Linked DNA regions of Homo sapiens. The protein of the gene in region 1 purifies or fractionates together with the protein of each later gene. This does not show direct contact. Each region holds a gene or a part of one and is shown in the gene's direction. Other genes may lie near its edges.

Region 1 (7,338 bases):
CGAAGGCATTTATGGGACTGGGGTTAATGAGAAGTCAACATGGTGGATTAGCATCCAAGATGAAGTTAATTTTGTCTCCACATACCAGTAGGAAAAAAAAAAAGCTAGCTTGCAGAATGCCAGGGTAGGCATTGAAGAACCAAACATAGAAAAGTGTGTTCAATGCTAGGAGATAGCTTAATAACTCATAGTTGGCAAAGTCTGTTATTTCTACCTCCTAAACTCTAGAGTTTATCCTATTCTCTCTATCCACACTGCTGCTCTTCTGCCCCAGGTAACTATTATCATGCAGCTGACCTAATGCAATAACCTCCTAACTAGTTGCTGTTTCTTTTTTCCTGCCTCAGATCCACTCTCTGTACAACAGCCAGAGTGAGCTTTATTATATAAATAAAATTCTGATTACAACACTCCTCTACTCAAATCTCTCCAATGGGAGCCAATTTTACAGTAAGTAGCTAGTCAGACATGAGCAGAGTAGGAGAGGGCTCCCCCCACCCACCAGGAATGTCAGGTGAACATCAGGTGATAGTAAGGAGGTTGTTAACCGTCTCTCTAAAATAATAGTTGAGGGCCAGGCGTGGTGGCTCATGCTTGCAATTCCAGCACTTTAGGAGGTCGAGGTGGGCAGATCACCTCAGGTCAGGAGTTTGAGACCAGCCTGGCCAACATGGTGAAACCCCGTCTCTACTAAAAATACAAAAATACAGGTGGCAGGTGTCTGTAATCCCAGCGACTCTGGAAGCTGAGGCAGGAGAATCGCTTGAACCTGGGAGGTGGAGGTTGTAATGAGCTGTGATTGTACCACTGCACTCCAGCCTGGGCAACAGAGCAAGACTCCATCTCAAAAAAAAAAAAATTATATATATATATATATATATATATATATATATAAAATAACAATTGGTCACAGCCAGTGCCAGGGAAAGGCAGTCTCCCAATAGACAGAAAAAACTTGAAACTGGTGATCAGCAGCTTCCTGATAAGATCTCAGGAGTTGGGCGAGTGGGTTCAAGCATGCACATTAAGAGGCAGAATGGCAGAGTTTAACTGGTATATTACCTTCTAGGGACATTCAGCTGGTAAGAGAAGAGTGCTTCAAGTAAGCATGCATACAACTCCAGTAAACACACTGTGCATGCTCCCCTCCCAAATCCTGGTGGGCCACTGCACATGTGGACAGCCCACCAAAGGGCAGAATCAGGGGAGAAGGAATGCAGGACCCTGGAAGTATGCCAACGTATAAAAACCCCGAGTCAAAAGTCAAACTGCACACTTGTCTTTCAAGTTGCCCACTTGGTCCTCTTCCAAATGTACTTTACTTTGTTTATTCCTGCTCTAAAGCTTTTTAATAAACTGTCGCTCCTGCTCTAAAACTTGCCTTGGTCTCTTCTTCCATCCTATGGCCCCCAGTTGAATTCTTTCTTCTGAGAAGGCAAGAATTGAGTTTGCTGCAAACCCACACAGATTCACTGCTGGCTGGTGACATATTTTGGTGCCGTGTGACTCAGATAACTTCCACTGCTAATGTCAATGTTGGACAATGTTAGATAATGTTGAAGGATTAAGATATCAGCGTAAAACTGAGTTTCTGTGGACTATACTTCTTTGTTATGCTCTACTGAACCCCTCTTGGGGGGAAGTCTTTGGGATACACCTTACAAGAGACTCATCTCTCACAGACAGTTGGCTGCTGGTCAGTGGAGGTTGGCTGCATTTACAGCCAGGATCAAAGGATGCCACTAATTTTAAGTCCCTAGTGTTTAATTCAGATTAAACACTAGGTTTATTTCTTGACAGAAGACATTTGTCTTCTTGACAGTGTTATTTCTTGACAGAAGACATTTACCTGTGAAAGCTGTTTTCTGGAACTTCTTTTCTTTACCTGTCTTTGTAATTATAGGCTCAAAATTGCCAGAGGAAGAACCCTAAACACTTAAAAATATATCTGTTTATCCAACTTCATTCTGACAATATGCCTCCGTATTCCAATTTGACACTATAGTTTACGAAGTCCTCTTCCTTCACCTTTAATTCTCCTTTTGGCTTAGACTAGAGTTTCTCTACATTAGCACTCTTCTGAGCTGGGTAATTCTTTGCTCTGAGAGGCTGTCCTGTGCACTGTAGGATGATTAGCAGCTTCCCTGGCCTCTGCTCCCCACATTAGAGTACCATGCTCCCACTCCTAGTTGTGACCACCAAAAATGTCTCCAGACATTGCCAAATGTCTTTAGTTTCCAATAAAACGACGTTCTCCATTAAGCAACATAATTTTTTAGTGTATGTATGTCCCATATGACATTTCAGAAATTTATCTGAAATTCAAATTTAACTGAACATCTTATCTTTTTCGTTGCTAAATCTGCAGTCTATCTGGGGGCGAGATAACCCCTGGTTGAGACCCAATGGCCTAGAGTTAAATCCAAGTGTTTTACAAATAACAATGAGTCAACTGCTTTTTTCATTGGTTTGTTTTTTGAGCTAACCCTACATCATTTGCAATTATAATGAGTACTGTTCCTTTAGAACCAGATGTTGTCAAGAGATGCAGAATCTAATAAAATGAGTTTTGATCCTGATTGAAAGTTAAAGAAACATTTAGAGCTCAGTCAGGGAGGAAAGAGCTTGAAGAAGAAAGCTAGCAGCAACCTTAGGAGAGAAGCAATGACAGTGAAGAGTTCTGTCCACACAAATTAGTTGAAAGAGGTTACAAAAGAGGCTACCAGAGGTTACAAAATATTGCATAACAGAGTGAAGTACCCAATGGATATACCATTAATGTTTTTCTAAGTCAATGGGAAGACACTTAAATGTCTTAAGAGTCTACAGAAATACAAAATCAAACCAAGCCAAAGAGGAAGTCAGCTGCAATTTTAGTGGGTATTGCAGACTTCCCTCTCCTCCAACGGAAGAATTAGCTAATTCTTAAACTCCAGAGAGGCTGGCCTCGATGTCAACTGCATAGTGAAACATAAAATCTTTGAAATAATTATAAAAATAGCTCAGTATATCCACCAGTGGAGTAAGAAGAATTTCCCTGAATATTTATAAGCACAGGCCTAGTATCCTGGTCACTAGTTTCTGGCCACTAAGGAGCCTCAACTGATTGGGAAAATCACATCAATTGGTTTGAGATGGTTGAACTATTTCTTCCATGATATTATTGAGCAAATAGGCTTGCTGCCCCCTGCTCACAGAAGCCAATATCTGGACACTGGGTTTTGAGGAAAGAAAAACTTTATTGCAAGACAGGTCAGCAAGGAGACAGGAGGTGGGCTCAAATCTGCCTCCCCAGTTTGGAATCTGAGAAAATGTATGGCTTAGAGGGTGAGGGAAAGGATTTAGGAATGTTGGTTTGGCAGGGACTGATTGAAGGGCTTCAAATTTGACCACTAAAGGTAAGGTATGTTGAGGCAGATTTCAGCCCTGGATCTTTTGGGCCAATGAGCCCCTAGCTTCTGAAAGAGGTCCTGCATTTAGGTTCCCGTCATGTCCTTGTCTTCTTGGTTCCCAGGGGAGGGATCATTTGTTCTAGGTTCTGTTAGAGGCAAAAACATTTTTATTGTGCATGCCTGGGCTAAATGACTTACAGTTTTTGGCTCTGTTATATCTACAGAGTAAATTGACATTTGTTATCAACAAAGTACGGCCCATTTGGGCTGGTCCCATGGTTATAATGGGTGTGTGGACGGTCGAGTGTTTCAATTCTGGGAAAGTTTGATGTGATTGTATTCAGTTCAAGGAAAATGTGTGAATGATATCATATATAGCATATAAAATGTTTACAATATTTAAGAGATTGGGCATACTAGCATGTTTGATAAATAAATTGATGATGCAATTTAAAATGCATAACAGAGTATTTGATTTTAGACTTATGATTTTTAAATTGAATATTATAAAGTAATTTGGCTAAATGTGTGAATAGTATTGGAATATTTAAAACAACTTAAGATTTATTATGTTAGTAAATTTATTAGTTTACAAAACTGCATAAATAGCTGGAAAAGCGTTACTTGTTAGGCTGAGAATTTTGAAGATTATTTTTCAAGTTCTTTGCCAGACACGTGTGGCTCTCACAAGTAAGTTTGTTGGTCTCTAGCCTTTCTCAATGGCCACTGAAAACCAGATTTTGATTACGAAATGTCTGAAATACAGTATCTTGGTTTGAACCGTGAGTCCTTCCTGCCAATGTAAGAACTTTTCTTCCTCCCTTAACTTTGCTTCCTTCTTTCCTGCATGTTACCACTGGCAGAGCAAATATGACTCAGAAACCGGCTCCTCAGGGTTGTAACATTAGATGATACAGGCTTGGGTCGTTACACATGACACCAGTGCCTTTGTTTCATTGGGCTGGGCTCTCTGGAAGGTGTGCTGCTGCCTGAGCTGCTGGAAAAGCACTGACAGGTGTTTGCTAGAAAAGCACTCCTGGAGCTTGCCACCAGCTTGGACTTCTAGGGACTTTCCTCTCAGCCAGGAAGGATTTTGATATTCATCAGAAATACCTCCAGAAGATTCAAGGAGCTGTAGAGGTGAAGTAAGCCTGTGAAGGACCAGCATGGGAATCCTATACTCTGAGGTACATCACCTTTCTGAAAGCAGAGTTCCAAAGATGTTAAAAGTTACTCATGCTTTTCAGATGCAATTTTCTATCCCTGTTAATATATTTCTGTTTTGTCTGTTCAACTCCCTGGGGGAGCATTAAGTCAGAAAAAATAAAGTCCTATGTGTTATTCTTGTTGATATTCTTAATAGTTTAAGACAAAGTATTTTGTAATTCTAAAATATTAGCTAGATCTAAGTTGAGATGAATATAATACACATTTCATAGTATCTGGATGTTTGCAAGGATAATTTGGACAAAATCGAGTTTGAGTTGTGCTTTTCTCATGACAAACACTCAGAGAAAAAGAGAAAATTGTACTCAATTGGATTTTCTAAATATCCAAAAGATTGACTGCCTCTTTTATGGAACCACATGACCAGAGTAATGCCTTTCAGCTTGGTATTTGAAGGGAGATTCACCTTTAGTAAATATTAGTAAAGACTATCACTATGAAGAAGAGGAATAATAACATATTTTGATGATTTGATTATTTTCTTTTCACATCTGATAAATACTGAGGTACTTTTACTTGTATTGGAAGTAACTTATTAGAATCAAATGGATTTTTAATGATGTTTCAAGAAAGTACAAGCAAGGAATGTTTAGACAAGAGTACAAGAGGTGTAATGATGTCATTATACATAATTTACTCTCTCTCTCCTCTGACACAATTAACTGGTTAATCTGCATTTCATTGCAGATGCTCAGGGGAACCTTCTTGGATAGTTTTGATCTAGTATTAAAGACAGTTTATTTGCAGTTATTTCTAATGCCATGTGTGTATATATCTCTCCGTGTGTGCAAATGCAGTGTTTGATTGGTTTATAACTCTAGGTATGTCTTGCTCAGTGATTTTAGCCTCATGAAGGGATCATATACATGAAAATGACAAAACATATAGTGCTTTTAAATGCTACTCTGGTAACTCTCAAACTTTAGACTGCCCAAGTGTCAGGGAGAGAAGTTTGTTTGAAATGCAGTTTCAAGGGACTCCAACCCAGAGAGTCTGTTTCACTCAGTCTATGGTAGGATACAAAAGTATACTTTTTAAAAGGAGCATCCCAGGTGGTTCTGACATAGGGGTGATCTGTTTACCACCATCCTGAGAAAGAAAGACTGCCACAGGCCAGTGCTTTCCCGTTTTTAATGTCTATACAGATCTTCTGAAGGTCTTGTTTAAATGCAGATTCTTAGTTTGTAGACCTGGGTGGGACCTAAGATTCTGCATTTTGGTTGCTTTTTCAGATTGCATGTGGGAATTATATGTGATTTGGAAAAAGGAAAAAAAAAAGCCTAGTCTCATCCTCAGGTATTCTGATGTAGAAAGTTGGAAGTAGGACCTTTCATCTATAGTTTTAAAGAGTTTGAGACTCTTTAAAATTAAATAGTAATCTCTTAAATATTTAAACATAGCCTACTCATTTGTAATATATCATTTGCTCTGTGTTTCCTAAGGATAAAGATTGTGAGCTACTCATTAAGGACAAGAAAAAAGCCTGCTGGATCCCTGGTCCTATGTTGCCTGGAAGAATCTATTCAAAAAAAAAAAAAAAACTTCCCCCAATTTGAGTGCGGGAAGCTCCTCTAGATTGGGGACATAGGGTTATCATTTTTCCTTAGAGCTTTGCAGTGCTAATAGTTATGCAATATATATTTTTAAGAAAGAAGGAGAGAATGAGGGAGGATCCCAGAGAGCTGGTCCTGAAATCTGCACTAGAGGATAAGCTTAGAGCTCAGTGAGAGGCCCTAATTTTGAATAAGTAACTCCAACTGCGTAAGATGGACTTTTAAACAAGGCTGATTCATTTAAACCCTTATCAAAGGTATTTGTTCATAATATTTACAATAGCAACAAACATGTATTTAGGGCTTCTTATAGATTAGGCCCTATTTTAAGCACTTTATATATGTATTAACTCATTTAATACAGCAATCTTGTAAGAGTCACTTTTAGTATCCTTATTTTACAAATGAAGAAACTGAGGAAAAGGTAGTCACTGGCTCATAGTTACACAGTTGAAAAGTGCTTATTGGCTGGAGATTGGTGGCTAGGATGAGTCCTGTGTTTACTCATTCAAAGAGATTCTTCTTACATCACTGCTGAACTACTAAATTTTTCTACTACTTGTTATTTCAACAGATATGTCATGCTCCATAAGAGAATTGGTCTTAACCACTCTGGTGTTCTGCCACTGTTCTAACCAGGATGGTGCCCTGTTCCCTTAGTGGAAAGAATGAGTAAACTAAATCCAGGTCCAATGAGGTACATTCTACTGCTACCTTGCAACAGAGAACTGTTGCATTGTGAAGTAGCACAAAAATCGGAAAGAAGAAAAATGCTGAGAACTTAAAAGAGTTCAGGAACTAATACTTAGGAGACTTAAAGAATCTTTTACAGACTTTTGGTCTCTTCAGTTGCAGACACAGGCCCCAAAAAGCGTTTCTTGAAAATCATATCTTAAATGATGTATTCCTTTAAACATTGGGAAGTTCTCATTATAAGGCTGTAAGTAAAAGGATGCACACACACCCACACACACACACACACACACATGCACATGCACACACACAAACTTAAAATTAATCCTTTGGCAATGGATATGTTTTTCAGAGAAGCTGATGTTACTACAGAAAAAGGAAATATAGTTCAAAAAACAGAAAGATTGTCTTGAAATATACAATGCCTAGGGAGAGCAATTTAGATCAAGCAAGTTTTATTGGAAAAGCTGGTA
Region 2 (3,249 bases), on another chromosome or scaffold:
CTTTCCATAAGCCGTGGAACATAGGCACATTAAATCCTGTCAGCATATTATTGTGTGACAGAGACATCAGAATAAATAGCATGAAGAAAGGAATGAGGTCACATTAAGGAAAATAAGGAAAATAATGTATAATTGTGCTTTTTGGATTGTGGCCAAATTATTTTATTTTTAAACCATAGATTTTTATTTGAAGCTATTTTCATTTAATTGTATGCTTGAAGTTGGGATAAAAAATTTTTTTTTAACTTGAGCTTTGAGTTCTAAAATTCTGGTACTAATCAGACTTCTTCTGTAAAATGCTTTGTGTTTCTGTTTACTCCTTTGATTATCTGAAATGGTACTGTTTTTTTTAAGTCTCTTAAAGGTTTTTTCAGGGATAGCTAACTAAAACTATTTTTTGGATGTTAAACTATTTTTTGGCAATAACCATTTTTGATGAACAGTCTAATAAATTCATGTTAGTGTGTGTGTTAAACCTCCTGTACCCTTAACCTCCACCCCTAAATTCCTTAGGTTGAACAAGTACAGTGATTTGTCATAGAAAGAAACTATTTGTTAAAAACTCTAGGAAAGTGAGTGCTAATTTTAGATTCCTGCCTTTCACCTTTCTTTTCCTAGAATGAAATTAAAGCTCTGTCTGAGGAAAGAACTGCCATTAAAGAGCAGCTGGATTCATCTAATAGTACCATTGCCATTTTACAAACTGAGAAAGACAAACTAGAGTTGGAAATTACAGATTCTAAAAAAGAACAAGATGATCTCTTGGTGCTCTTGGCCGATCAAGATCAGAAAATACTGTCATTGAAGAATAAACTCAAGGATCTTGGTCATCCAGTAAGATTAAAATGTCTCCAAAAATGATTTGTATTATGTTTTAGTATAATGCATTTAAAAGATTTTTAATGTAACATGGAAAAGTTGTGCCTGTATTATAGGAATGGATATGTGGGTTCATGAATATGGTACCATCTATACTGTTTTCACTGTTTTCATTGAATTTACTTAATACACAGATTAGGTTCAGTTTTCAGTACTTACAGACTATTTTCTTTTGGACCGTAAGCCTAGAAAGTGAATTGATTTGATTGGTAACAAGACTGTAGTCACCCAAGCATGTCATTATCTTTTGCCATGTTTGTTTCAGATTTGTGTGTAAAGAGGTGTAGCCATTTATCAGCAAAGTTAACTGATATATCTCATTCATATTAGAAATGACAGAGAGCCTTGGCATCAAATCAAAGAAATCAGATGGCTTATATTCTACTGTAGTTACTAGAATACAAAATTTGTCTGGGCACAGTGCTCACACCTGTAATCCTAGCACTTTGGGGGGCTGAGGTGGGCAGATTACCTGAGGTCAGGGGTTCGAGACCAGCCTGGCCAACATGGTGAAACCCCATCTCTACTAAAAATACAAAAATTAGCAGGGCGCTTGGTGGCAGGCACCTGTAATCCCAGCTACTCGGGAGGCTGAGACAGGATAATCGCTTGAACCTGGCAGGCAGAGGTTGCAGTGAGCCGAGATCGCACCATTGCACTCCAGCCTGGGTAACGAGCAAAACTCCATCTCAGAAAAAAAAAAAATTATCAGTAGTATATATTGTTAAATGTTGAATGTGACATGAACAGATTTTCACAATATTAAATACGTCTTTTTCCTCTAGGTTGAAGAAGAGGATGAACTTGAATCTGGAGACCAAGAGGATGAGGATGATGAAAGTGAAGATCCTGGCAAGGATCTAGATCATATCTAGTTTTCAAATCTCTAGGAACAATAGAGATTATATCATAACTCTGAAGATGGACTCTAAACTTTGGTTTACCTCCATGGAAAATAAAGATTTAGAAACCAGGTGGAAAACATTCACTATTAAGACTATTGATATATTTTTGTAATGTTGCCACCCATGTTGAAAACCTTAAAACTGAATTTATGTAGAACACACATCTTTTATTTAAATCCATCTGAACTGTCCCAAAATGTAATTTGCAAAGAGCTTCAAACACCAAAAATATACCATTTTAAGGCATGTGGTGACAATGCTATTTGCCTTAGTTCATTCGTTGTTTACTTTGCAAAATTTGTGACTTTTAAGTACTAACACATTTGATTGAATGTGTATTGAATTGGAATTATTATTTCTAAATTCAGCATTTGAGTCCTTAGTTGATGATTTTCTTTTAAAGAAATTAGTTTATTTAAAAGCAAGATAGCCTGGGTTGGGAGTTAGTGCATATCATCAGCCCTCCATCTAATGTGATTGCTAAGATGTGCAGGATAGGACAGCTTAGAATGAGTGCCTTGACACCTACATATGGCTGCATTCCATACCTCAGTGAAGAAGCCGAAGGATGCTGACACACAGTGATGTGGAGGGCATTCCGGAGAAACTTTTGCAACAGTGTATTAATGTGATTGGTTTTCTTTTTGTTTTAAGCTAAACATCTAAAACAAATTTCAAGTTAACAGTTCATACAACTCAGATTTAGTAGTATTGTTTATCATAAAACATATTATGTTCCTAGTTTTAAAAAGACCCAAAGTATGATTAATATAATTTATTGGCATTTTTGCTGAATAGGTTTAAGTCAGATAATAGATTTTAAAAAAGCAAATGAGGCAATGTGTCAAAATTTAATGTTTCATAATAAAAATAGATACGTTGACTTAATCCTTGGTCATGGTTCCCTTTGTTTACATCTTAAAAGTATTTTATTCTTAATAAAAGATGAGGCAAGTGAAAATGATGAGGCGACTTTTCTTATTAGGGGTACACAACTATAACTGAATGTTAAAAACAATCTTCTTTAAAACCAATGATTATGATTCCCTAAGATTGGAGGGGGTTAGAAGTACAGAAGTAGAAGAGGTTGGAAAAGGGTTTGGACGTTTTTAAATTCAGCACTGGAGTTCTTGGCAATGATTTCCTGTTGAAGAAGTGGGTTTACTTAAAGACAAGATAGCCTGGGCTAGAAAATAACGTATTTATCTGCCTTCTGGGGTCAGGAATAGGACACAACTTTTGAAAGAGAAGGAAGGTCACTGTCTTGATGAAGGAGACAGCTGTGTGTTACAGAGCACTCGTGAATGCTGCACTGTGCCCATGTTCCACCACTACTGCCATCCTAAGGTGGCACTTGCCATCAGAGAAAGAACTATATTACTGTCACCAGACCAGCTCAGATAGGTGAGGTCTTCCTAAAGTTGACAACCACATAATGAACCATGAGTTAATGACTACCTTTCAG

Evidence for each region.
Region 2: the proteins of ANKRD22 (region 1) and USO1 purify together in Homo sapiens (co-immunoprecipitation; 2 studies listed by BioGRID and IntAct, with this or other methods). This does not show direct contact.

What each region holds. Positions count from the first base shown.
Region 1 is NC_000010.11:88,848,828-88,856,165, reverse strand, and holds the start of ANKRD22 (ankyrin repeat domain-containing protein 22), read left to right. Parts: upstream 1-4,321; 5' UTR 4,322-4,558; coding exon 4,559-4,579; intron 4,580-7,338.
Region 2 is NC_000004.12:75,811,542-75,814,790, forward strand, and holds the end of USO1 (general vesicular transport factor p115), read left to right. Parts: intron 1-618; coding exon 619-834; intron 835-1,664; coding exon 1,665-1,754; 3' UTR 1,755-2,745; downstream 2,746-3,249. UniProt on the Homo sapiens protein: General vesicular transport factor required for intercisternal transport in the Golgi stack; it is required for transcytotic fusion and/or subsequent binding of the vesicles to the target membrane.